2 linked regions of the Homo sapiens genome follow. The protein of the gene in region 1 interacts with the protein of each later gene in a pairwise test. Each region holds a gene or a part of one and is shown in the gene's direction. Other genes may lie near its edges.

Region 1 (3,814 bases):
TGGGCCTCCCAAAGTGCTGGGATTACAGATGGGAGCCACCACACTCAGCCTTTTTTTTTTTTTTTTTTTTTTAATAATTCGTTACTCTGAACTGTTTGACCTGTTCCGTGTTTGGCATGAGAAATTAAATGAAAGTTTTGTTTCCTTAACTCACCGGTCAGGTTCTTGTTTAAAGTTGCTAAATTCTAGGATCATCATCCGTAGACTTGACACAGAAAATACTGTGGTCACTTGTTGTGATGAGACTTGAGATCTTTTTCTTTTAAAGCAACAAGCCCCTTTGAGATTCACATTGACTATAAAGACCATCTTTTTGCAGTGTTTTAAATTTTCCTGCTGGCCTAATAAATGAAGTGGAATAAAATGACCTGAAAGTCACGGCGTGTGTGGGAGACAGGGCCCAGCTGCAGGCTGAGCACCTCGCTGTTCTTGATAGGGCATGGAGCCGGGTTTGTGTGTCTGAAATTAGAAATTAGTAGTGGCCAGGCGCGGTGGCTCACGCCTGTAATCCCAGCCCTTTGGGAGGCCGAGGCAGGCGGATCACGAGGTCAGGAGAACGAGACCATCCTGGCTAACACGGTGAAACCCCGTCTCTACTAAAAATACAAAAATTAGCCGGGCGTGGTGGCTGGCACCTGTAGTCCCAGCTACTCAGGAGGCTGAGGCAGGAGAATGGCGTGAACCCGGGAGGCAGAGCTTGCAGTGAGCCGAGATCACGCCACTGCACTCCAGCCTGGACGAAAGAGTGAGACTCCATCTCAAAAAAAAAAGAAAGAAATTAGTAGTAAACTTGTGAAGACATCATAATGTATGACCTTCTTTTTTCTTTAAACTTCTGTGAATGTTTTGAATTTTGACTTTTTTTTTTGAGATGGCGTCTTGTTCTGTCACCCAGGCTGGTGTGCAGTGGTGCGATTTCAGCTCACTGCCACCTCTGCCTCCCCGGTTCAAGTGATTCTCCTGCCTCAGCCTCCCGAGTAGCTGGGATTATAGGCACATGCCACCATGCCCGGATAATTTTTATATATATATAAACCTGACCTCAAGTGATCCACCCGCCTTGGCCTCTCAAAGTGCTGGGATTATGGCATGAGCCACCACGCCTGGCCTTGACGTTTCTTTTTATAATATTGTGTCTGTCTATTTTTCCCCCAAGAGATAAACAAATTCTGGTGCCAGTTTTTTCTTGCAAAGTCTTCGCACTCACTCTCCTCTCTGCCTGGAAGGCTTTTCCCCCTGGCTTCCCCTGGCTCCTGGCCCCGTCAGGTCTTCCTTAGGTCTCAGCTGACCTCACTTCCCCTAGGAATGGCACTGCCCTGCTACCCTCTCCCAAGACTAGGTTAGGGGCTCCTGTCTCATCTTCCTCTACCTCTTTTAATTGTCTTACTTCTGGTTGGAGTCTTGGCAAAACCTCCAGCCACTCCTTCAGCCAAGGGAGGTTTTCTATGTAGGAAAAAGGATAAAAAGGAAAAAAAAAAACATAGTGCTCTAGGCTTTAAGACACCAGTATGACCCTAGGACATTAATACCTGATAAAAAGCAGCCAATATTAAAAGGGCTTTTCACCACCACCAGGGTTCTTTGGCGATGTCGACAAAAGCTGAGAGAGCCTTTTAGCTACAGAGCGCATTGAAGATCAAGCTGCCTTCAGTGTCTCTGGACGTAGCAAGAAGGCACGCTTTAATAAATCTCTGCACAGCATAATAGCCCGGGCTTGTTATACCCCAGGCCAAGGACTTCCCGAGTCCTATATGCCTAAGAGCTGTTGTTTGGCAAAAGAAAAAGAGTCGGGACCATAGGCAGCTGGATCACACAGGGTACATTTATCAAGTAGAGAAATCTACTGGATATTTACAAGATCAGGCTTGTTTTTTAAAGTTCTCTGGATAAGGATAAAGGGATTTTATCTTAGACCAGGGTGGGCACGTAGAAGTAGTGGTGTTTAGTTGTTAGCGTCCAGCAGACAGGATGGCCTGACTCCAGGGACCCCTGGCTGGGGGCTTATGTGATCCATACACAGATGGGGACTGACCTAGTCTCACATGGGGGCCCAGTGCAGTCCCTTAAAGACAGATCTAGTCAAACTTGAGTCTGTTTGTTCTTGTTCTTGTTCTATTTTTATTTTTTATTTTTTGAGACAGGGTCTTGCTCTGCCACCCAGGCTGGAGGGCAGTGGTGCAATCTCAGCTCACTGCAACCTCCAACTCCTGGGTTCAAGTAATTTTCCCACCTCAGCCTCCCGAGTAGCTGGGACCACAGGTGTGCGCCACCACGCCCAGCTGATTTTTGTATTTTTTGTAGAGACGGGGTTTTGCCACATTGCCCAGGCTGGTCTCGAACTCCTGGCTTCAAACAATCTGCCTGCCTCAGCCTCCCAACATGCTGGGATTACTAACATGAGCCACCACACCCGGTCTTGCTCTTGATTTATTTCTGATGTTTCTGTGTCAGGCTCTTCTGGAGCTCTGACCCAGAGCAGGTGGAACCTGATCAAGTCTGTTCGTTCGCTGGCTCAGGTCAGCCTGGATTGTGACCCCCACGTATTAGCGGCACCTTCCACCCGCCCCGCCGCCTCGCCAGCCGACAGTCACCCCGACCTTGTGTTGTTGTTTTTACCTCCCTCACTAGAATGTAAGCTTCCTGAGCACAGGGATTCCTCTTTTAAAAAAACTTAATTTTTTTAGTTGAGATATAAGTCACATACCTTAAAATCCACCCTTTAAAAGTGTACAATTCAGTGGTTTTTAGTATATTCACGAGGTGCTTGTGCAACAGTCACTGCTTAGCCTCCCGAGTAGCTGGGATTACAGGCGTGCATCGCCACACCCACCTAATTTTTGTATTTTTGGTAGAGGCGGGGTTTCCCCTTGTTGGCCAGCTTGGTCTCGAACTCCTGACCTAAAGTGATCTACCCGCCTTGGCCTCCCAAAGTGCTAGGATTACAGTCGTGAGTCACAGAGCCCAGCCTAATTCTGTACTATTTTTATCACCTCCAAAAGAAATCCCTCATTCCTTTCTCCCCCAGGTTCCTGATGACCACTAATCTTTCTGTGTGTATGTATGTGCCTATTTTGGACATCTTATATAGATAGAATCATACAATATGTGGTCTTCTATGTCTGGCTTCTTTTTTCTTTTCTTTCGCTTTCTTTTCTTTCTTTTCTAGAGACAGGGTCTTGCTCTGTCGCTCAGGCTGGAGTGCAGTGGCACAGTCATGACTCATTGAAACCATGACCTCCTGGGCTCAGGTGATCTTCCCACCTCAGCCTCCTCAGTAACTGGGACTACAGCCATGTGCCACCACACCTGGCTAATTTTTAAAATTTCTTGTAGAGATAAGATCTCACTATGTTGCCCAGCTGGTTTGGAACTCCTGGCCTCCAGCAATCCTCCCACCTTGGCCTCCCAAAGTGCTGGGATTACTGAAGTGAGGCACCGCGCCTGCCTGCTTCTTTTCACTCAGCATAATGTTTTCAAGGTTCAGTACGTTGTAACACATACCTGGAATTCATTCCTTTCTAGGGCTGGATAATATCTCATTGTATGGATTGACCACACTTTGTTTATCTCTTCATCAGTTGATGGGCATTTGTGTTGTTTCCACTCTTTGGCTATTATGAATAATGCTGCTCTGAACATTCTGTACAAGTTTTTGTGTGAGCATCTATTCATTTCATTTCAGTGAGTATGTACCTAGGAGTGGAACTGCTGGGTCATACAGGTATATTTCACTTTTTAAGGAAGGGCAAGAATTCTTGTCTGTTTTGTTCACAAAACACAGTTCTTGTCTGCGCTGTCACCAGGGCTTGGATGC
Region 2 (2,946 bases), on another chromosome or scaffold:
CTACTCCATGTATCCTTCCACCTGAGGCTGGGGTGGGCGGGGAACGCCCAGGGCAGAGCTGGGGAGCCACTTCACAGTGAGCTGTTTGCCTCCGCTCCCCACCACCGCAGCCAGGCTGGGACACAGGGTGGGCTGTGCACGGGTTGGGCAGCCCAGGCCCCAGCAGCCAGGCCCCTCGCCAGGACCATGTGGCGATCAGCGGCAGACCCGCCAGTCTAAGTCCTGGTGAGTGGTGGGCAGGGGGTGTCACCAGAGGGCCAGGGCCAGCACTGAGGCCTCCCTGTTGGACTGCTGGGATCCCCTCTGCCCGCTCCTGTCAGTCATCCCCCTTGACCGGCCCCTCTACCTCCTCTGCCCCATCTCAGCCCTGCCGCCCAGCCGGACCTTGCGACAAGGAGCACTGGGCAGGGTGGTGGGAGGGAGGGCGTGGGCAGCCCCGAGTGCCAGACCTGTTGGAACCTCCCGTGGCTGCCTCCTGGCTCTGTGACCTCAGGCAGTGGCTGCCCCCGACCTTTTTTGAGACAGGGTCTCGCTCTGTCCCCCAGGCTGCAGTGCAGTGGTGCAGCTGTGACTCATGGCAGCCTCCACCTGGGCTCAGGCCACCCTCTTACCTCAGCCTCTGGAGTAGCTGGGACCACAGGCACACACCACTGCACCTGGCTTTTAAATTTTTTGTAGAGATGAGGGTCTCACTATGTTGCCCAGGCTGGTCTCAAACTCCTGGGCTCCAGTGATCCTCCCGCCTCAGCCTCCCAAAATGCTGGGATTCCAGGCATGAGCCACCGTGCTCGGGCCCCTCTCTGTGTTGTCTTCAGTAAAGGGAGTTCCCTGTGGCCCCTCAGGCTGAGCTGGGCTGTTCCTTAACCACATGGCTTCAGTGTGGCGGGCGTGTTTGTGTGCCTGCTGGAGTACCCCCGGGGGAAGAGGAAGAAGGGCTCCACCATGGAGCGCTGGTGAGTCTCCTCCTGCTCTGGGGTCTCTCCGGGGGCTGCGGGGCCCAGGCAGGGCTCACAGGGTTGGGTGGAGCTTGGTTTCTCACTTGGAGGCTCCGGAACCAACCCTTTGGTGCTTGTGGGTAAACCAAGGCCGGTGCCTGCCCGGTGTGTTTTGTGGGAGGAAAGAGGCCTGGGTGCCCTGGGGTGGTCAGCAGGGCAGCAAAGGAGTCCCGAGTGGGAGAGGCCCAGCCGCGCCGTCTCGCCTTCCTCCCTCCCCCAGGGGACAGAAGTACATGACCGCCGTGGTGAAGCTGTTCGGGCCCTTTACCAGGAATTACTATGTTCGGGCCGTCCTGCATCTCCTGTGAGTCCCCGTCCCGCACCCCCTCTAGGGCTCAGGAGGGCTTGGAGCCGACCCTCCCCACTGTCCCACCGGCCGGGCTGCCTGGACAGGAGCCACCCCCACTTACCTCAGTGTTTTTCCAAACAAAAATTCGGGTCCCTGGCTCTGGCAGGGCCTGTGTCTGCTGTCTAGTGTGCAGGATTTGTAAGGATCCACTCCAAATCCGAGGAGCTCCGATCCGTCGCCAGGGTCTGGGGTCAGCATGCACTGCTGGGGGGTCTTGCCTGGGCTTCCTGGTAGGGTGGAGGGTTCCGTGCTGTGTGTCTGCTGGTTACTGCCGGCTGAGGCCAGGACACCCACACGTGGCTGCTTCCTCCGAGCAAGTGCACCAGAGCCGCTAGTGTCCACATCAAGGCTGAGAACACCCAGGACCGAAACAAGCCCCGGTCCGCGCACGTCCCCTGGGTCTGCAGTCTGCCTTGTCCTGAGACTTTGTGGCCTTGGCCCCCAGACCTGGGGCTCCGTTCCCCTTTCTGAGTGCCCTTCTGTGTCCCTGCCTCTCACCCGCTGTCCCCCAGGCTCTCGGTGCCCGCCGGCTTCCTGCTGGCCACCATCCTTGGGACCGCCTGCCTGGCCATTGCGAGCGGCATCTACCTACTGGTGAGTGGCGCCCTCTGAGGTCGGCCCCGGCCACCCCCATCCCCAGCCCCTGCCCTGACACCCTCGGACACGCATGGCCCTTGAAGCCGGCTCTGTAGGCTGAGCCAAGGCTGGGAGCAAGTGTGAGCCTGGGCGTGTGCTCACAGCACGGCGGGGACGCAGCGGTTGCTGCTGCCATTTTTGGCGTGTCTAGTGTGTCGGGTCATTTCCTTGCATTTCCTCATTAACCCGCACCACAGCCCTGGGAGGGGTACTGGGGTCCCCACTTTACAGACAAAGATGCGGAGGCTCAGGGAGGTGCTGTGACTGGCCTGGGGTCACGCAGCCGGCCGAAGACCGTGCCTGCGCTTGGGTCCCATTATCAGGCTTTTCTCACCTAAACCCTATTCGCGCTGATTCATGGGCGGTGCCAGGACGCAGACATTTTCTTAAACTGCCGACACCTGCGTTTGGTTTATGACTGCTGCACCCTGTTAGAAGGCTGCCCATCCCATGGGATACAGTGATCTCTCTGAGAGGCCAGGGATGGGTGGGAGGACAGGGCGCAGCCTGGCCAGGCCTTGGGTGAAATGCCCTCTGCCTGCCCTGGGCTCCGGAACAGACGGCTGCAGGCCACCTCTCACTGCGGGGGTCTCTGGGTGGACAGAGCCCTCAGACTTTGCTTATTTAAATCCTTTTGTCCATAGAGCCAAGTCCCTCCTGCCCGCAGAGGCAACTGCCCTCCCCTTGCTGTGCGTCTTCTAGTGTGTGTGCGTGGGAAAGGTGCAGCACTTTCTGTGTACGCCTTCCGCGTATGGAAGTGGAGTTCTGTTTCAAGCCTCACTGACCTGCCACCGGCAGAACTCTCCTTTAGAACCCCTTCCTGTTGCCAAGTGCTCATCTGGGCTGTTGCTTTGTTTTCCGGGGGCCACCCGCATCCCCCCCGTCTCCCTGCTGCCACGCACAGCTAGTGGCTCCTGGAGACCTCGGGAGGAATTCCTTGTGCTAAACCCAGAGAGGAATTGCTGG

What was found.
Region 2: the proteins of CPT1A (region 1) and CYBA interact in a two-hybrid assay, tested with the Homo sapiens proteins (one large-scale study listed by BioGRID and IntAct).

Annotation. Positions count from the first base shown.
Region 1 is NC_000011.10:68,775,750-68,779,563, reverse strand, and holds part of CPT1A (carnitine O-palmitoyltransferase 1, liver isoform), read left to right. Parts: intron 1-3,814. UniProt on the Homo sapiens protein: Catalyzes the transfer of the acyl group of long-chain fatty acid-CoA conjugates onto carnitine, an essential step for the mitochondrial uptake of long-chain fatty acids and their subsequent beta-oxidation in the mitochondrion.
Region 2 is NC_000016.10:88,645,108-88,648,053, reverse strand, and holds part of CYBA (cytochrome b-245 light chain), read left to right. Parts: coding exon 1-9; intron 10-878; coding exon 879-953; intron 954-1,215; coding exon 1,216-1,299; intron 1,300-1,856; coding exon 1,857-1,938; intron 1,939-2,624; coding exon of another isoform or gene 2,625-2,888; exon of another isoform or gene 2,889-2,946. UniProt on the Homo sapiens protein: Subunit of NADPH oxidase complexes that is required for the NADPH oxidase activity that generates, in various cell types, superoxide from molecular oxygen utilizing NADPH as an electron donor.